Regions from separate parts of the Homo sapiens genome. Here regions 2, 3 and 4 are each linked to region 1. Evidence: fine-mapped expression QTL. A gene starts in region 1. Each other region holds a variant in brackets. All regions are shown on one strand. Distances are between the middles of the regions.

Evidence for each region. PIP is the estimated chance that this variant, and not a neighbour inherited with it, causes the effect.
Region 2: its variant is the best candidate, but not a certain one, in a credible set for the expression of SOAT1 in whole blood (INTERVAL, PIP 0.69).
Region 3: its variant is the best candidate, but not a certain one, in a credible set for the expression of SOAT1 in whole blood (INTERVAL, PIP 0.51).
Region 4: its variant is the best candidate, but not a certain one, in a credible set for the expression of SOAT1 in whole blood (INTERVAL, PIP 0.86).

Annotation. Positions count from the first base shown.
Region 1 is chr1:179,290,847-179,296,186 of GRCh38, reverse strand. It overlaps SOAT1 (sterol O-acyltransferase 1), which reads right to left and starts at 2,390. Exons shown (of 16, transcript NM_003101.6): 1 at 2,251-2,390. RefSeq lists an enhancer at 1,686-2,193 and a silencer at 2,406-2,595.
Region 2 is chr1:179,352,280-179,357,619 of GRCh38, reverse strand. SOAT1 (sterol O-acyltransferase 1) reads right to left here. Exons shown (of 16, transcript NM_003101.6): 16 at 1-4,035. The coding sequence ends at 3,979. Among named protein-coding and RNA genes, the nearest start is that of AXDND1, 11 kb to the left of the region's middle. The variant C/T (reference allele first, on the strand shown) is at 2,727.
Region 3 is chr1:179,500,639-179,505,978 of GRCh38, reverse strand. All of the region lies in intron 20 of AXDND1 (axonemal dynein light chain domain containing 1), which reads right to left. Among named protein-coding and RNA genes, the nearest start is that of NPHS2, 73 kb to the left of the region's middle. The variant C/T (reference allele first, on the strand shown) is at 3,157.
Region 4 is chr1:179,337,104-179,342,443 of GRCh38, reverse strand. It overlaps SOAT1 (sterol O-acyltransferase 1), which reads right to left. Exons shown (of 16, transcript NM_003101.6): 5 at 4,548-4,607; 6 at 2,899-3,006; 7 at 1,134-1,416; 8 at 252-330. Among named protein-coding and RNA genes, the nearest start is that of AXDND1, 26 kb to the left of the region's middle. The variant T/C (reference allele first, on the strand shown) is at 2,585.

The sequences.
Region 1 (5,340 bases):
GACCAGTCTGGCCAACACAGTGAAACCCTCCCTGTCTCTACTAAAAATACAAAAATTAGCCGGGTGAGCTGGGCGCGGTGGCTCACGCCTGTAATCCCAGCACTTTGGGAGGCTGAGGCGGGTGGATCACCTGAGGTTGGAAGTTCGAGACCAGCCTGACCAGTAAGATCTGATCAGTCTTTACTAAAAAAAAAAAAAAAAAAAAAAAAAAAAAAAAAAATTAGCCGGGCGTGGTAGCACATGCCCGTAATCCCAGCTACTTGGGAGGCTGAGGCGGAGAATCGCTTGAACCCGGGAGGCGGAGGTTGCGGGGAGCCGAGATCGTGCCATTCCAGCCTGGGCAACAAGCGCCAAACTCCATCTCAAAAAAAAAAAAAAAAATTAGCCGGGCGTACTGGGACACGCCTGTAATCCCAGCTACTTGGGAGGCTGGGGCATGAATATCCCTTGAACCTGGGAGGCAAAGTTTCAAAAAGTTAGGCACAGTAAGAGATTAACAATATACTGTATTAAAATTCACTTGAACATGGTATCTCTCGAAATGTCTTATTGTACTCTGTTTCGCACCTCAGGTAGCTGAAACTACAGAAAGCAGTTAAGTGGGGATCACTGTATTTCTCATTCAAAAGTTCCTTCCTCTGTCCACCAACTTATTCATTCTTTCTCTGGGCCAAGTGCTGGACCAGACCCTGAAAATTACAACAGGCTAAACCAGCCTTCATGAAATGCACTAGCAGAGGAAACAAAGCAACTAATTCATTACAATTAATGATCAACTTCTGCTAAGGAGAATAAAGAGTTCATGGAGGGCTTAATGGGGATGGGGTGATTTCCAGAGGAAGTGATATGTGGGCTGATATCTGAGGCAGGTATAAGAGTTGGAGGGAGGGAGAGAATACAGCATTAGAGGTGGAGGAAACTCCTAAAAGCCAAGAGAGGAAAGAAAATGAAGCTTTCCAGTAACAAAAATAAAGCCAGTGTGGCATGAACCTGGAAAGCCAGAAGGAAAGTGGGCCAAATGAACCAGAGATAGAGTGTGCTCACTCAGTAGGTCTTTATCCTAAAAGACTGCGAAACCTCAGATGCATTCTAAGCATGTGATTCACTAAAACACGTGCATTTCTAAACGATAATTCAGTGCCACAGAGCTCCTTCCAAAACCCATTCTCACACCCAGACAACGCACAGACTTCCTTAACAAGTCATTCACTGACACCGCCCAACTTTTAAAAAGAAAAAAAAAAAGCTTCAAATTGAATTCTACTTCAAGGAAGAGGAAATCAAGCAGGCTGAAAAAAAGAAAAAAGTGGTTTAAACAGGTGGCAGCCACTTAAATATTAAAAAGTGACCAACAGGCCAGGCGCGGTGGCTCACGCCTGTAATCCCAGCACTTTGGGAGGCCGAAGCGGGCGGATCACTTGAGGTCAGGAGTTTGAGACCAACCTGGTCCAACATGGTGAAACCCCGTCTCTACTAAAACTACAAAAATTACCTGGGCGTGGTGGCGCACGCCTGTAATCCCAGCTACTCAGGAGGCTGAGGCACAAGAATCGCTTGAACCCGGGAGGCAGAGGTTGCAGTGAGCCGAGATTGCGCCACTGCACTCCAGCCTTGCGACACAGCGAGACTCCGTCTCAAACAAACAAAAGTGACCAACGAACTTAACCTAAATATATATACGGAGAATAAAGTTTATATAGTTGTTTCTCACTTAGAAATAACCTTTCAATATACATATTATTTAAATTACATGACCATTAACACTTAGGGAAAACAGAAACTTACCTACATCCTAATATTTTACAATAAAACATGAGCTTGATTAAAGGTTCTGGTGCCCCTACAGATTTTCATGTCTTGCTAATACCATCCTTCCCTTCACACATTTTCTCTAAATCATTAAAAAGCTGACTTCCTGAGTGCATTTTTGGTTTCGCTTTTTAAAGAATAAAACGTCTTCTAATTCCTAACTTTCTTTACTACTGACTTGAGAGATGCCACGAGATTTGCGGAACACCAAACCAGCGTGCAGGGTTTAAAAGGCTGCCCGTGACCCGGGCGCCTGACGGTAACTTTCCCGCCCTCCCCTCCCCAACTCCCCTGCAGTCGCCGAGCCTCGCCTTCTCCGCAGCACAGCCCAGGACAAGGCCGGGCCGGAGCTGCTGCCGCCACCGCTTCTCCCTTCCCCGCGGGCTGAGGCCGGTGGACCCAAGCGGGAAGCGAGGAGAGGCGCGGGAGCACCACCGTTACCTGAGGCCCGCGCCCGGCAGCGGGCACTTCGGCCAAGAGGGCAGAGCCGGGAAGCGGTCACAGAGCAGCCAGCAGGAAGGTCGACTCCGGGAAGCTCTCCTGGCGCCCAGGGCCCGCAACGTCGCCTGCTAAGCTAAAGCGCCGGACAGCCCGGCCCCTACGCCCCCTGCCTCCGAGCACCGCTGCGTCACGCGCAGGGCCACCTCCGGCTGAGCATCCTATTGGTGGTCCCCAGGTTGCCAGGCTCCGCCCACCTCCCCGCCCCTTCCCGGGCGCGCGGGTCCCCGGCGCCAGTGCTCGCAGGCTGGCCCTGGCAACCTGCCAAGGAAGCTTCTCACCCGGACATCATGATACCGGCGACAACATCTTGCTTGACACTTCCACCCCAGCAGTAGAATGTGCAGCCAAAACGGGACTGCGACAACTCCCTGCAAGCCCGAAACGGCACCCTGCGTGGTAGCATGGAGCTGCAGGGGCGTTTGGCTCCTAGGCCGACTGGAAGAAGCCGCTTCTGGAGCTGTGGATCATTGCAGTTTGAACTGACCATCCAGGAACAACGTAGAACTAGCCAGAAGCAAGAATCGCTGGCTTATCTGCACACCAAGATTCGTGCCTTTATCAGGAGATTCCTTACCGTTTGAAAACCAGCGTCCTTCAGCAACATTCAAACTAGATAAGGGGAAAAAACCTGCACCAAATAATAAAACACACCAAATAATGGAACAACTAAGTAATATTTAAGGGCCCTTGAGGCCAGGTGCGGTGGCTCACGCCTGTAATCCCAACACTTTGGGAGACCGAGGTGGCTGGGTCACCTGAGGTTAGGATCGAGACCAGCCTGACCAACATGGTGAAACCCCGTCTCTACTAAATACAAAAAATTAGCCGGGCTTGGTGGCGCGCGCCTGTAATCCCAGCTATTCGGGAGGCTGAGGCAGGAGGATTGCTTGAACCCGGAAGCCAGAGGTTGCAGTGAGCCTAGATTGTGCCATTGCACTCCAGCCTGGGCAATAAGAGCTAAACTCCTTCTCAAAAAAAGTTTTAAAAATAAAATAAACAAAGGGCCCTCGTGACTTCATAATCAAAAGAAGAATGATGCAGAGAGATTTGGGACAGAGATTAAATACAACAGTTAATCGCTTGGAATTTGTGAAGGCAGAGGTGTACGTAAATTTAGGGTAAAGGTAGGTGAAAAGGCAATGATGAGAGGAGCAGAGACTGAAGAGTCGCACTCACAGCCTGCAAACTAATACCAGCTAGCCTGGCCTGACTAATCGCTTCTTCCCCACTCCTCCCCAGGACAAAAATCCCTGAACAAACAGATGAGGTTTAGCAGAACTGACTACTCTCTGGGTCCTTTAAACAAAGTGGATTTGTACACGTTCCCTTGGCCACCCAGCAGGCTGCACTGTTCACTCAAAGCAGAAATGGCCCTCAGCATCCAGTCGAGTTTAGTACTGGCTGTCATTGGCAGATCTGCTCCGTTTGGCCTCTTCTACAACTGTGATTGCCACGTGTGCTGACTAGTTGGTGACAGGGTCTGGTAGACCCCCAGCTGCTTCCCCTCCCCACTCCCACTAGTTATAGAGCAGTAGGAACATAGGCACTCATTTCTATTGGGTCTCTGTTGGCTACCTTCTATATACACCAAGATGACTGGCCTTTTCACTGTTTGATTCATTCATTCAAAAAATATTGATAGTATTCTTGGTGCTAGAAATACAGTGGTGAATAAACAGAAGAAGCCCCTGCACTTAGAGGCTTATGTTCTGCAGGACTAGGTATGAAAGGAAACAAACAGGTGGCTCAAGCCTATAATCCCAGCACTTTGGGAGGCTGAGGCAGGAGGATCACTTTGAGGCCAGGAGTCCAAGACCAGCCTGAGCAACATAGTGAGACTCCCTCTCTACAGAATTTAAAAACAACAACAACAACAACAACAATGACAACAAAATTTGCTGGGAATTGTGGCAGGCCCCTATGGTCCCAGCTACTCGGGAGGCTGAGATAAGAGGATTGCTTGTGGTGGGGGATGGGGGGTGAGGGACGGAGGATGCAGTGAGCCAAAAAATCATGCCACTGCACTGCAGCCTGGTCAACACAGTGGGACTCTGTCTCAAACAACAAAAGCTTATGTTTCTAATGAAGAATATAAATAATAAAACGAATAGATGAGATAATCACTGGCAGTGATAAGTACTGAGCAGAAAACAAAACAGAATGGTCAGGGAAGGATTTTCTGAGGAGATAATTCAGGAGCTAAGACCTAAATGACAAGAAGGAGCCAGCCAAGCCAACCATGGGGAGGAAGAACATTCTAGACAGAGGATAATGGGTGTCAAGGCCCCGATGCTGAACTGTGGCTGATGCTGAAGCGTGGCTGTTTGAGGAACAGGCCAGGAGGCTTGAGCATGTCAAATAGGGGTTTGAAGTTGAGTTTGGAGCATTAAGCAGGAACCTAATCACGTTGTTTGGATTTATCTGTTAAGTGCAAAGGCAAGATAATGAAGGGTTTGGGTTTTTGTTGTTTTGAGATGGGGTCTCACTCTGTCGCCCAGGCTGGAGTGCAGTGGTGCAATCAGGGCTCACTGCATCCTCTACCTCCCCAGGCTCGCTAAGTCATCTTCCCACCTCAGCCTCCCTAGTACCTGGGACTACAGGTGGGCGTCACCACACCAGACTAATTTTTGTATTTTTTGTAGAGACAGGGTTTCGCTGTGTTGCCCAGGCTGGTCCTGAACTCCTGGGCTCAAGTGATCCTCCCGCCTCAGCCTCCCAAACTGCTGGGATTACAGGCATGAGCCACGTGCCCGGCCATTGGTTTATTTTTTTTTTTAAATCAACCTATTTTATAGAGAATGACTTGAAGGGAGCAGCAATGGAACAAAAAGGAGCCGAAGAACAATACAAAGTTATTGGGCAAGTTCAGGGGGTAGATGGTGGTACCTGGACTAGGCTGGTTGGTGTGGAAATAGAAATTGAAAGATTTCAGGATATTTTCCCGAGGTGCAGGTGTGAAGAAAGGTAGTAAACGAGATGACTCCCAGGTTGTTTCCTTAAGCAATTGAGAGGATGGGGATACCATTTAGT
Region 2 (5,340 bases), 61 kb before region 1:
ACCCAGCGATATGTAACATTTTATTTCAACAGAGGGCCAACACTGTATTACCTGACAGAAACTTTAATAATGATACAAAAGTCAAATCCTTATATAAACTTCACCCAAAACATTCACTTTGGCCGGGAGCATGGCTCATGCCTATAATCCCAGCACTATGGGAGGCTGAGGCTGGCGGATCATGAGGTCAGGAGTTCGAGACCAGCCTGACCATCATGGTGAAACCCCATCTCTACTAAAAACACAAAAATTAGCTGGACATGGTGGCAGGCACCTGTAATGCCAGCTACTCGGGAGGCTGAGGCAGGAGAATCGCTTGAACCCAGGAGGCAGAGGTTGCAGTGAGCTGAGATCACAGCACTGCACTCCAGCCTGGTGACTGAGACTCCGTCTCAAAACAAACAAACAAACAAAACATTCACTTTATTCCTTGAAACATTTATGTCCAGTTCCCTCCATTTCAGAGCCATAAAGCCTAGAGATAAGATACATAAAATACCCAGAACAGACCTTTGTGTGTATACAGTGTATGTATACATACCATATGTAGCATTGTTATGTAGTATTACATAAATTACATGAAATTTTGCATAAGATTAGTAAGCAAGTCACTGAAACTTTATTAACAATAAGTATGGGCTTGGCATGGTGGCTCATGCCTGTAATCCCAAAGCTTTCTGCAGTGGGAGTTTTGCTTGAGGTGAAGAGTTTGAGACCAGCCTGGGCAACATAGGGAGACCCCCCCCATCTCTAAAAAAAAAAAAACAAATAAATTAGCTGGGTGTGGTGGTAGGCACTTGTAGTTCTAGGTACTCCAGAGCACTATTTGAGTCCAGGAGTTTGAGACTGCAGTGAGCTATGATCACGCTACTACCAGCCTGGGCAACAGAGTGAGACCCTGTCTCTTTAAAAACAAAAACAAAGTATGAGCTATCTTCCATTAAAAAACTGATTCTGGAGCAAGGAGCCAGGAGCCGTGGCTCACACCTGTAATCCCAGCACTTTGAGAGGCTGAGGCAAATAGATCCCTTGACTCCAGGAGTTTGAGACCAGCCTGAGCAACATGGTAAAACCCCATCTGTACAAGAAAAAAAAAACTGGCCTGGGCGACAGAACAAGACTCTGTCTTAAAAAAAAAAAAAAAAAAAAAAAAAGGCAGCCTCAGTTTTCTAATTAAATTCTAACATGAGGCAAGCAACTTTACCTGCAAAGTTTTAGTATGTGAATCTACCAACAAACAAAACAAAATTCCATTTTGCATCATTATCCAAGATTGAGAATAAAAGGATCTAACAAATTTATCCTCACACATAAAGGTACTAGAAGGTCAAGTTAGAGATCTAATGAGAAAGTGATATACATACTACATAATTGTTCTGTTGGTTAATATGCCCAAAATAATAGTTACTATCATTACATCTTACAGAAACAAAAACTTTAAGCTTATTACTTTTCAGAAGGAAAAAAGTATCCTATAACTGAAAATAATTTTCGCCACAATAGCAAAATAGAAAAAATAAATCTTCCTGAAACATTAGCAAGAGATTTTAGTTTTTATTTGTTTAAAGAGTATAGGTGGTGGTTTCAAGAAAAGACTTTTGCTAAAAGCAGCTAGCAATAAGATTATGGCTATCAAACCAGTTTCTTTCATAGAAAGTGACCATTCCTTGAAGTGCTACTGTTTTTGAAAGTTTCTTAGAACAGTCTCAGCATTCTAAACAGTCTGTAGTTCTACATATTTGTTGTTGCAATCTTGGGCAGGAAAATCACTAATAACAGGAAACAGAGGCCGGGCACGGTGGCTAACGCCTGTCTTCCCAGCACTTTGGGAGGCTGAGGTGGGCAGATCACAAGGTCAGGAGTTTGAGACCAGCCTGACCAACAGGGTGAAACCCCATCTCTACTAAAAATACAAAAATTAGCCAGGCGTGGCCCTGTAATCCCAGCTACTCAGGAGGCTGAGGCAGGAGAATAGCTTGAACCAGGGAGGCAGAGGTTGCAGTGAGCTGAGTTCACGCCATTGCACTCCAGCCCCGGCGACAGAGCAAGACTCTGTCTCAAAAACAAACAAACAAACAAACAGGAAGCAGAGAGCTTTTTGAAAAATAGCCTTGATCAATCCAACAAATACAGTATTCAGAAACACTACAGAGCAACAAAGTCTTCTCATAAGAGTCATATTTATAGTATTTCTTAACAGAAATATAAACCTAAGAATTCCATTCTCTAGATTCAAAAGATTGGCTTGCTCATAACCAGGTCTCAGCGCAATCTGTCCCCAATATATTTAAAATGCAGTTATAAATTCAAAATAAAAATTCGTTTTAATTTTAAGAAAAATGTCAAGAATTACAAGCCATATTAAAGCAAACTAGTTAGCAGGTTATGATTCCATTACAATTACAATACTGTTGTGCAGAACATTACTGCGGGAACATGCAGAGTACCTTTTTAAAAATAACTTCCCTTGAGTGTATTTGTTTCCGTTGAAGTTGGATTTAATGTTTGAAAATTACCTAAACTCATCTGGACCAGTGGTATCGTGAGTAAGATACGTGATTAAGCTGGATACTTGTGGTTCAAATTAAGTTGTGACTATTAAGAAACTCTACTTACCTTCTTGTGAGACTCAAACTGACTTTAAAACAATTCCAAACAATACCAAGAGAGCCTCTCAAGTGGCTGTTCCAAGTAACAACTATCATTTAAATAATTCATAAATCTTA[C/T]TTTGAGTGGAAAGTTGAACTACATGGTCTCTGATACCCCTTCCAATGCTCAATCTTTACAATCATACCTCATACATACAAATAATTCCTACACACATTGTATTAGAAATGGGCATCTTATAAAATGGAAGTATTACATAATAGAGTACATTTCCTTGAAACCAATCACATATTAATTTATTCCACCTAAAAACATACTACCATTAAAAGTATAACTGAGCAAATGCAGAAGCCAGCTTCTGGATTCTTAATGATCACTTTAATATGAGTGGAGGTGATTAATACTTATGGTACAGACTCACTAGTCTGCAAAATAATTCAAGAGAAGTCAATATTTATTAGACAATAAAATAATTGTTCCAAAGGATATTTCTAAATAACTTCAAAGAAGTTACCACAAAGTTAAAAAGGAATATCTTCCATGTTAAGTTTGTGATAAAATAATTTAAACACATGATTGACTCTACAAATCTTTTTTACAAATTACTTCAGAAGTTATAAGAGGAAATGTTTTTCTTTTTCCTCTGCTATCTCTTATTTTTTCCTTCCTACTTCTGATCCCCTTAATATACAATATTATTGATGTAAACTCAAGAATTCATGGTAAAAGGCATCTTTTTGCTTCACAGAAATCATGACCTATAGAGAAAACAAGGTAAAAACTAAGGAAAACTGAACATTGAACTTTTTTCAAAAAAATTACAAAATAGGATGTATAACATTATCTTTGGAAAACAGACATTTTCTTTCTACTAGAAATAGCAAAAATCATTCTACATTTTTTCTTCCCCAATTGCATGTTCAATTAGCATACATTCCAACAGTGTGCATGAAAAAATTTCTAAGCCAGAGGTATTTAAGTGATTTCTTCCTAAGTGTTTTGGCTAATTCAGTGGCCAAGAAACTATGATGTTTATTCTCTGATTGGACAGAGTCAAGAAACAAAACAGATATAATTACCAAGGGATAAAGCTGATATGACCCAGCAACAATCTGTCATTACTTCAGCTGTTAGTCGGTCTTCTCCCCCCACCCAGCCCCACAAAAAAAGTTCTGCTCTGCTTAAGTGTACAAGACTCCAGTGAACTTCCAACAGTTTGGCTTCAAGTGACCTAGGAATGGAGTGAGTCATCTGTAAAGCCTGGAGTGGTCCAAATAACACAGATAACTTCAGTAACAACTGGAAACAGCTGGCTCCAAATCAGGGAGCTACCCAATCTTCAGTGACAAGGAGGAAACAAAGTCCAAGCTTCTAAAACACGTAACGACAAGTCCAGGAACGTGGCCGGACATAATCCAAAAATGTGGGCTGCAGTGGGGAAAAATAAGAATGGAAAAATAATTTGTGTACAGAGTAGAGGAGGTGTGGAGATAGGCAGGGATGTTAATATGATACATTGTACATCTCTAAAATGCCTCCCACCATTTCAACAACCCTCAAGGTATAAGCAGCTCACTAATTCAAAAGATGTTCAGTACTTTTATCTATAACACAGATTTATTCAATTAGGTGCTTCACATAAAGCTTTTAAAGTCCAGTAAACTATACACAATTGTGTGGACTTTGACCAGTTTCTAAATAGGCACTATTTCTTTCTGTATCTTTATTTTAGCACAGCCCTACTTTTAGTACCTTAAAATCTAAATGGTGGTTAAGGACGACAAATAGATATATATATATATATTTATATATAACCACCATTTAGATTTTAAGGTACTAAATATTAGTATATATTAGTTAATATATAATATATAAATAAATATATAAATATAAATATATATTATATATACACATATATAAATGACTAATATATACATAAATGACATATATATAAAAATGACTAATACAAGGTTTAAAATTACTGAACTATCAAAGGAGGAGCAAATGAAGCACTACAAAAGTTCAGAAATAGGAAAGAGAGGGAAGCAAGCATTTGAAAAATCATCATGGAAGATGTGGCATCCAAACTGGATTTTGATAGGAGAATAAAATCTGACATGTGGAATCCAGGTGACCAGGGACAGTCAAGAGCAATTACTTCAGATGAACAAAGGAGATTAATATGAAATAAAGAGGGAGAGTTGAGGCAGCCTAACAGACATAGGGTACACAGAAAGAGGGGAAGCTTTGGAGAGGAAACTGATTAATTTCATTATGGACATCTTCAGTTACAGATGCCTATGAGAAATACCCAGGAAATAAATCAAGAAGGTATCCCCTCCAAACCTGGAAGGTTGTAGGGATTGAATGAATTATTAGTAGGGCCACCAAATTTAGCAAATACAAGTACAGGATGCCGAGATGAACTTGAGACAAATAGCTCTATCTGCCATATTTTTTGTAATTTACTGAAAAAAGCAGAATATAGGACATTTGGGGTGTTCTAAGAAACCCAATACAGGAGGCAGGACAAAAATGTTAAATATAGGACACGCCCTATATGCACAAAAAGCCTGGCAATCCTACTTCTTAGGGTGTTTCCATCATGAAATTCTATCCATAACTATAAGCAGTACTTTCAGCTAGTGCTAGTAGATCTAATTAACCAGATCACATCAATTAAATTAACCAGAGTGTTTGCTGGGAAATTCCTATGTCCTATACTGTGTTACT
Region 3 (5,340 bases), 210 kb before region 1:
ATACAATGACATCAGTTTCTGTCTGAAATAGGCACAGGAGCAAGGATTCTCAGAACTGAGTCCTCCTAAAAAATGGCCTCCCGCTGTATGAGGTCAGACTGGATCAAGCTATGCCAGGATCAGGTGGATGGTAAATAATTAGCCCCTGGACTGCCTTAGTACTCTTGGGGAACTAGATAATCCCTATCTGTTTCTGAAGAAGCAATTTACCTAGACTGTTATGGAAAGTGGAGTAAGAATTTATATCAGTAGGGGTGATCAAACTCCAAAAGATGGTTACCTAGGAGATCTTCAATTTTTTTCTGTTTTTCTTTTTTCTTTTTTTTTTTTTGAGATGGAGTTTCGCTCTGTTGCCCAGGCTGGAATGCAGTGGAGCAATCTCGGCTCGGCACAACCTCTACCTCCCGGGTTCAAGGGATTCTCCTGCCTCAACCTCCTGAGTAGCTTGGAGGCACCCACTACCACACCTGGCTAATTTTTGTATTTTTAGTACAGACACAGTTTCACCATGTTGGCCAGGCTGGTCTCAAACTCCCGACCTCAGGTGATCTGCTTGCCTCAGCCTCCCAAAATGCTGGGATTACAGGCATGAACCACTGCACCTGGCCAAGATCCTCAGTTCTGAACCCTGTCCAGCATCATGCAAATCTCCTTGGCTGGAAAGAAGCAGAAACATTAGCTTGTGGGAAACTCTCACTAATGTCATCCAAATATCAGTCTAGTAGGTCAAATGCTAGAATGTGGCACAAGCCACACAGCATTACCATAGAGCTGCATTAGACAAGGCTTCTCTGGAAAACCATCTTCTTTTCACCTTGTGGGATGTGGATGAGGCCATAGAAATCCCAAAGTCTGATGTCATAAAGATTCATGTACCATAGAGGTTTGTCTAGATCAGGAGAAGATGGTAGCAGTCCAGGATGGTGATGAATTTGAAATAAAAATAACCTTCATGAAGATGGAACTAACCATTTTTTTAAAGAGTACCTCAGTATGGTCTGCTAAGCCCCTTACCATAAACTCGCTTGATATACCCTTGAGAGGCCTCAGGCTTAGGGAAAAGGCATATGCATTTTCTTAGCAGAAGAAGGCCTTTGCATAGGCTCAGTTACAGCCTTACCTCTGGTGTGAGAGCAGATTCTCAGCCTCCTCTGATAAGACTCCCCCAGTTTATTTATCTGAAATCACTAGAGAACGGTTAGTGAGTGAGAAAGAGCTTAACAGAGGACCAAAGTAGCACTAGTGGAAAGTGTAGGTCCTCAAAGAGATGGTCAGGTTATGGGCATCCAGTCAGGGGATGGGGTGGCGCAGGGCAATGAATGGCCATAGCACAAGGCTTCCACAAAATCTCCTCATCTGGATAATTTTATAAGTTCCTGAACCCTGAAGTTCCCTCAGGAAGGGCTCCTCATGATAGTGTCCTCCATATGGCTATAGCCTTAACTTTTATAGGGAGATACACCTCAAAACATCTTGAAATCCTCATTCCAGATTACCTTTATCTGAAAACCTGGTCTCGCCACACAGAGCTCTACCCACTTTTAGGTAAATGAGGACTAAGTGTGTCATAGAGTTGGCCAGTGGGTCTCCACCACCATCTGTGGCAGGTCCAGCCTGCCAAAATCAGGATCCCCACCACATCCTGGGGTGGACAGAAGAAGGGGCTATTCGCAGCAGGCCTGAGAAGGCTTGAACACATTTCTAGATGTATAGTGTGGGTTCCAAGAGACTGCTTGGTTCAGAAGTATAACAGCCTGTTGTGAAGAATCCTTCTGAAGCCTTCCCAGAACCAAAATGAGAACTCAGACATTTCATTCAACTCTTAGATGAGAAGTGATATATACCTATAGTAGCATATTTTCAAATAGTAAAATATTATTGCTTCCCTGACATACACCCTAAATGTTCATGGTGTTTTAGTCTTGTAATTTTCTACCACATTAAATTTGCTATTTTAAATTTGGATTTAGCACCTATATATTAATACATAAGATTTATTTTCTCTATACTCATCTGGACTTTTTAAAGGACATTAGTAGCTATGTGAAATAAAATGGGAATACTTTCAGTCGTTATCTATGCTCTTACACTGTTTATATAGCATGGGGATTACCCTACTCCTTGAAAGTCTGCATAATTCTCAGCAAACTATCACAAGGACAAAAAAGCAAACACCGCGTGTTCTCAATCATAGGTGGGAATTGAACAATGAGAACACATGGACACAGGAAGGGGAACATCACACACTCCGGGGACTGTTGTGGGGTGAGGGCAGGGGGGAGGGATGGCATTAGGAAATATACCTAATGCTAAATGACAAGTTAATGGGTGCAGCACACCAACATGGCACATGTGTACATATGTAACAAACCTGCACATTGTGCCCATGTACCCTAAAACTTAAAGTATAATAACAATAAAATTAAAATAAAAATAAAAATTAAAAAAAAGTCTGAAAAAACCTGTCTGAGGAATCCAGGCAAAATTTTTAGCATTTCTAAAAATTAGTGCATCCAATTTTTCACTGAAAATTGGCCAATTTTCTCCTTCAAGGATTAATGATACTATTTTCCTAGAAAAGTCTCCATCTCCTAGAGATTTAAAATGTATTAGCAAGATGTTGTACATAAATTTTATAACATAAAAGTTTTTAAACAGTTTTATAATAGTTATAAAACTGTTCAAAAACTGTGAGATCTGTCATACATACAGAGAGACATAAAATACACATATGCAGTTTAAAGAGAGAATTGCTCCCTACATGCCAGTCCTCATATACCATAATATTCATAATATTTATTCTACTATTTATGGACATTTGAGTTGTTTCCAGTTTGAGGATACTTCTAGAAATAATCTTGGAATATCCTTTTTTTTTTTTTTTACACGGAGTTTTGCTCTTTTTGCCCAGGCTAGAATGCAATGGCACGATCTCACCTCACCGCAACCTCCGCCTCCCGGGTTCAAGTGATTCTCCTGCCTCAGCCTCCTGAGTAGCTGGGATTACAGGCATGCGCCACCACGCCTGGCTAATTTTGTATTTTCAGTAGAGACGGGGTCTCTCCATGTTGGTCAGGCTGGTCTTGATCTCCCAACCTCAGGTGATCCACCCGTCTCAGCCTCCCAAAGTGCTGGGATTACAGGTGTGAGCCACCA[C/T]GCCTGGCCAGAATGTTCTTATGTATGTCTCTTAGTCTAGAGCACTTGTGTAAGAGCTTATCTAGTATACTGACAGATGAATAGAATTGTTTGTTGCAAAGTGTGTTGCAACTTTAACAGATAATGTCAACTGATTTCCAAAGTGGATGTACAAATTTATATTCTTACCAGCAGTATAGAAGTACCTGTTGCTCCCTCATTCTTGTTAACACTTGTATTGCCAGACTTTGCAATTTCTTTTTTTTTTTTTTTTTTTTTTTAGACAGAGTTTTGCTCTTTTGCCCAGGCTGAAGTGCAGTGGTGCAATCTTGGCTCACCACAAACTTTGCCTCCCGGGTTCAAGCGATTCTCCTGCCTCAGCCTCCCCAGTAGCTGGGACTGCCGGTGCGTGCCACCATGCCGGGCTAATTTTGTATTTTTAGCAGAGACAGAGGTTCACCACGCTGGCCAGGCTGATCTTGAACTCCTGACCACAGGTGATCCGCCCACCTCGGCCTCCCAAAGTGCTGAGATTACAGGCGTAAGCCACCACACTCGGCCTAGACTTTGTAATTTTTGCCAGCTTGTTATGTAAGTAGTGATATTAGTTTGTATTTCCCTGATCACTTATGAAATTGAGCAGCTTTTCATAAGTATGTCAACCATTGGGATTTTCTCTTTGGTGAGGTATACATTCAGGCTTTTTGCCCATTTTTCTATTGGGTTGTGTATTTTTATAATATTGATTCCTAGAAGGTCATTTTCTATTCTGGATACTGGTCCTTTGTCAGTTATAAGTGTTGCAAATACAGTCTCCCATTTTGTGGATTGTTTTTGTTTTAATGGTATTTTCTTGACAAAAATAATTCTTAAATTTAAGGTAATCAAAATTATGAACCTTTTCCCTTTGAGTTAGTGCTTCTTATCTCTTACTTAAAAAAAATTTTCCTACCCCCAAGATCTTAGATATTGTCTTCTAAAAGCTTTATAATTTTGACTTTCACATGTAGGTTTCTAGTCCATTTGGAATTGATTTTTGTGTGAAGTAAAAGTCTCATTTCATCTCTCCTATATAGATAGCCAATATTCCTAGTTTTTGAGTTTTTTTGTTGTTGTTTTGTTTTGTTTTGTTTTAAGACACAGTCTCACTCTGTCGCCCAGGCTGGAATGCAGTGGCGTGATTGGCTCACTGTGACCTCCGCCTTCCCGGTTCAAGCGATTCTCCTGCCTCACCCTCCCCAGTAGCTGGAACTACAGGGGTGCACCACCACACCTGGCTAATTTTTTTGTATTTTTAGTAGAGATGGGGTTTCACTGTATTAGTCAGGATGGTCTCGATCTCCTGACCTCATGATCCACCCGCCTCAGCCTCCCAAAGTGCTGGGATTACAGGCGTGAGCCACTGCACCCAGCCCCCTAGTATTTTTAATTGGAAAGTTCATCATTTCCTCATTAATTCTGTATGCCATGCTTATATAAAAGGCCATAAATTTTTGGTTCTGTTTTTTGATTCCATTGACATAGTTGTCCATCTTTGAACTAACACCATGCTGTTTCAGTTTAGCTTTACAAGAAGTTTAAAATATGGGAGGATGAGTCCTCTCACCTTATTTTCAAAAGTGTGTTAGCTATTCTTGGTTCTTTGAATATCCAAAACAGCTTTTAGAGACAGTTTGTCAAGTTGAAAAAAAAACTGTTGGAAACTTGATTGTGACACCTAGATTAGTGCTGTTTAATAGAACTTTCCATAATAATAGAAATGTTCTATATATGTGTGGTCCAATATGATCCCTGGTAGCAACATGTACTATTAAGCACTTAAAATATGGCTAATATGACTGGAGAGGTGAATTTTTAAATTTAAATTAATTCAGCCAGGCATGGTGGCTCACACCTGTAATCCCAGTACTTTGGGAGGCTGAGACGGGTGGATCACTTGAGACCAGGAGTTCAAGACCAGCCTGGCCAACATGGCAAAACCCTGTCTCTACTAAAAATACAAAAATTAGCCAGGTATGGTGGCCTGTGCCTGTAATCCCGGCTACTCAGGAAGCTGAGGCACTAGAATCTCTTGAACCCGAGAGGCAGAGTTCAAGAGAGCTGACATCGTGCCACTGCACTCCGGCCTGGGCAACAGAGCCAGATTCTGTCTCAAAAAATAAAAATAAATTAATTCAAATGTGAATAGCAATATGTGGCTAGTGG
Region 4 (5,340 bases), 46 kb before region 1:
ATCTCTACATTATATAATGTGACATCCCAGAAAACAACAAAGGGTGAAATATCCAGCCAATAATCCTTTAAACTAATGAAATTACACAAAGAAAAGAAAAGAAAAAGAGAGAGAGAGAGAAAGAGAAAGAGAAAAAGAGAGAGGGAGGGAGGGAAGGAAAGAAGGAAAGAAGGGAAGGGAAGGGAAGGGAATGGGGTGGGGGGAGAGGAGGGGAGGGGAGGAAGAAATAATGAACAAAAGAAATTACATACTTGATTTCTCCTTAGCTGAATTTAGTACCCGAGGCACGTTCTCTCTGACAAATGAGTGGGCCTTCATTACAAAACGAATCTACAAAAGCAGGAGGAAAAAGATGTCTCTTCAAAGAAAGTCTCCTGCAAGTGTCCTTTCCATTAGTCAAATGCATTATAGATAGCCAGTAAAGTCAGAAAATCCTGATAAGTGTATAAACAAATTAAAATAAAACCTTTATTATATAGTTACATGACAAAACAATGAATCTGACATTTCAAAAGTGAAGTTTTTAATTATGAAAATATTTTATAATTTAAATGACTTTTACAAAAAGTATTCAGAAACAAAATCTTGATGCATCAAAAATAATTCAATGTGGCCGGGCGCGGTGGCTTACGCCTGTAATCTCAGCACTTTGGGAGGCCGAGGCAGGCGGATCGTAAGGTCAGGAGTTTGAGACCAGTCTAGCCAATATGGTGAAACCCCATCTCTACTAAAAATACAAAAATTAGCCGGGTGTGGTGGCAGGCGCCTGCAGTCCCAGCCACTTGGGAGGCTGAGGCAGAAGAATCACTTGAACCTGGGAGGCAGGGGTTGCAGTGAGCCGAGATGGTGCCACTGCACTCCAGCCTAGGTGACAGAGCGAGACTCTGTCTCAAAAAAAAAAAAAAAAGTTCAACGTAATTTATTTATCAAAATTCAGAGAACATGGAAGCTACAATGAAACTTAAGAGGTGAGATGATTCTAGTTTAACAATTTTACAGATAATGGCAAAAGAACAATATATGAAAATTTATCCAAGTTAATACAGCTAAAAATAATAGTATCAGTATGTCATCATCATTATTATTATTTTAGCCGAGGACAGCATCGCCTTGGGTAACACTTAAAACCTTACCTGCTCGAATATAATGATGAACCGGGAAGCTGGTGGCAGTGTATATGCTAACACAACATATGTTGGTCCAAAACCTAGAACTCCAATCTGGAAGATCATGAAAAGAAAGCCATGGAAGAGAGAACGGATCAGCGGATGAGAACTCTTGCTATAGCCAGTGGCCCAATGTTGAAACAGAAAATAGGGAACTGAAAATGTAGACAGGAACATGATCCACCAGGTCCAAACAACGGTAGGAAATTTGCCAAAAGCATAAGACAGGAGGCTGAACTCAAGCACCAGCCTGGGGAGAAAAGGTACAGAAAAAGAACATAGAGGTGAATTTTTAATATACACTGAGTTCACAGAATTTAAAAGTTTCAAACACCAAACTTTCAACCTTAGGAAACACCACAACGTTAATACGCTGAAGTCATGGATGTAATAGTTCTGCTAGTTAGAGATCTGCTTCTAACCATCTGCTTTACAATATATATATATATATATATATCAACAATATATGTTCTTTAGAAACAAATTTTCTAAAAGCCCTAAGATAAATACAGTCTTCAAACTTAAGATATCTAAGATAATTGGACTTTGAACTTCTGAAAGATTAGATTCTCACATTAATTTTCTAACTGTAAAATATTCTATGGAAAATATTCAAACAGCAATCGTTCTTATGTACAAAAGATGATTTTTCAGAAGAAATAGGTACAATTTAAAAATATGTTAATATACTATACCATTATCTCCAAACTTAATTTTCAAAAAAAGTACATAATTCAATCCATGATTACCACGCTGTCATTTTTTAAGCTACAATTTGAGTTTTAAAATTTTATTTTGAGATCTGGTCTCCTTTGCATCCAGGCTGGAGTGCAGTGGCACAAACACAGCTCCACTGCAGCCTCAACCTCCCTGGCTCAAGCGATCCTCCTATCTCAGCCTCCTGAGTAGCTGGAACTACAAGTGTCTGCCACCACGCCCAGCTAATTTTTAAATTTTTTGTAGAGATGTTGCCCAGGCTGGTCTCCAACTCCTAAGCTCAAGTGATCCTCCCGCCTCGGCCTCCCAAAGTGCTGAGATTACAGGCACAAGCAACCATGCCTGGCCTATAATTTGACTTTCACATTAAAAAGAAATATCAACTTTTTCAACCTTCAATTCCAATAAGCTACTTGTTTTAAGTAACCATCTTAAATAAAGACAATCAAAAAGTTAATAAGTCATATACAGTTATCCCTCCCTATACATGGGGGGTTGGTTCCAGGAAACTGTGCAGACACCAAAACTTATGCAAATTCGAGGCCCACAGTTGGCCCCGTGGAACCCACAGATATGAAAAATCTGCCATTCTTATATGTGTGTTTTGCATCCTGGAATACTCTAGATCCCAATCAGCCTTTGCTTGCAGATGTAGAACCCATGGATACAGAGTGCTAAACACATTGATTGAAAAAATTCTG[T/C]GTATAAATAGACATGCACAGTTCAAACCCGTGCTGTTCGTAGGTCAACTGTGTATAAAGTTCTCCCATTTGGGAAAATTACCTAGAAATTACTGATTATGGTCTATTCAAATAAACCATTTTAAAAATAAAAGTAATGAAACTTCTAATTTTCTCCATCAGTTAAACTTTTCAGGGCAAAGGAATATCACCCTCAAATCTGCTGCTTTAGGATTTCCTGAAGCAATTTAATCAATTTACCCTTTACCAAAATTTAGTGAAAACCTCTAACTTCTCATGCATCAACTAGCCAGCCATCTTTTTTGTTGTCTTACCTTCCTTCATCAATGTAATCTACTACAAGTGTGCTGAGGATAAAGAGAATGAGGAGGGCAATAAACATGTGATATATTGTTCTGATGTGGTCCACTTCAAGCAGTTCACTGTAAATGTAGTTCAAACAAAACAAGTTAATAATGTATATTTAAATTTAAAACACCATAAAATCTTTTCTTAAAGCAGTTAACTTAAAGCAGTTGAGAAGATGCTTAATCCACTCTCCAAAAACATCTCAAAAAAGAATGGTCTACATTCTTTAAAACCTACCAGAAATGGATGTTTTCTAAGTAAACAAAGGCCAGTCACTAAAAACAGGAAACAAACTATTTCAAATGTTAAGAATTTTTTAATCCTATTCATATTCTACTCCCTAAATTTAATATATATTAAGTACTACCTATTTCCAAAATGTTAAAATTGACATGAGTTTCTATAATGTTGATCATGATGATGATGATAACCAATTACTACCCTACACGTCTATAAAACTCAACCATTTACAAAGATTTTACCTTCTCATTGACTTTTGTATTTAAGACTGGTCTAATTTTCTTTTAGAATATAACAATAATATAGATGACTTTTCCTAAATAATCTTTTATATCTGACTAAAACAGGTTTTTAAACTTGTTTTAACTTGTTTTTGGAAAGATAATGCTAATCTTTTAAATGATTTTGAGTAATCTAATATACTACTACTCAATCTCTGGACCAAGGATCTTCACAGTCTAATAAAAACTCATCTAAGCCATAGAAAACATGTTTTGTTTCCTTGGTTAAAAATTTTTTTAATATGTAATTTTGTTTATTTTTCATGTATAAATTCTATCATTAAAATCCTAATTATAATGTTTAAAATAAATTTTCTTTTCCCTTTTATGTGAAAAGCCTGCGTTTTCCCCCAGATGTAAACTTTAAAAGATTAATTCCTTCAAACTACAGTGTAACAGAACACTTAACACTATACATTACATGCTTAGAAAACACTGAACAGCACATTACATGCTTAGAAAACCGGCCTTCTTATCTAGGGGAAGTAGTAAACATCAACTTGACTCACAGAAAGTAACTTTTGATAAGCATAAGATGTCTTTTTAAAGAAAAGTACACTTTTTTTTATTGAGACAGCCTTGCTCTGTCACCCAGGCTGGAGTTGCTGGGTGTTGCACCTGGTGCTCAGGCTGGAGTGCAGGGGCACAATCTCAGCCCATGGCAACCTCCACCCTTCCGGGCTCAAGCGATCCTCCTGTCTCAGACTCTTGAGTAGCTGGGATTACAGGCATGCACCACCAAGCCTGGCTAATTTTTTGTATTTTTTGTAGAGAGAGACTTGCCGTGTTGCCCAAACTGGTCTTGAACTCCTGGACTCAAGCGATCTGCCTGTCTCAGCCTCCCAAAGTGCTAGGATTACAGGTGTGAGTCACAGTGCCAAGCCCAGATAACCATTCTTATCCCTAACTCCTCTTTTGAAACTAGATACAGAACCAAAAGATCAGAAAGGAGCAAGAGAGAGCATAGAAGAAAAAAACCCACTAATGATTTATACAGATACAGAACTCATTACATGTCCATATACTAAGCAATGATTCTATCAGAATAGTTTTTTAAAAATCAAACATATTTAAAAACAACTAAAAATACTCACTCTAAGAGAGAGCGCCTTGCAATAAAAATCTTTCCTTGTTCTGGAGGTGCTCTCAAATCCCTGAGAAGAGGAAAAATTAAAACAAGATATAAGTACTTCAAGTATTATAAGAAATCTAATCCCACAGACAAGAGAATATACCAATAACACCATCTAACATTAATTGACCAATGACCTTTTCACTACTAGGATTACAGATGCCCGCCACCATGCCCAGCTAAAACAGATCCAAATATTGTGTTACAGTTTTATGTATGTTACTTCATTTACCCTCTCTGTGAGGCAGGTACATACACAACTCTTAAGAAGGGAAAGCTCGCCACACCCAGCCCCTATGGACTTTGGCAATCACTTTTCCTTCTTGTAGAGAATGGCAAGGTCGCCACACTCAGCCCCTATGGACTTTGGCAATCACTTTTCCTTCTTGTAGAGATCCCCTAAGGTCATAAACAGGCCTCTAAGCACACTCTACTCCAGGTCATATATACTGTTACTGATCTGTCCTCTGAAACTGCACTGATGTTTACCATACCCTTCCTGATATCAAGGGACTTCCAGCAACTCCCAACAGCCTCCTGATCTTAAAGGTTGCTGCAAGTTACTAAAAACTCCCATTTTAACATCTTGCTTATCTTCTTTAGGGCTTTTCGTACTACTACCAGCACTTAACTATAATTGGTCAAAACTATTCTCCAGAACATCAGTCTATGCCTCCAAACAGGGGCATAAAACTGAGAAGAGCATGGAATGGCAAGTTAACACATATTAGCCTTTGATAGCCTTCACTCGATTA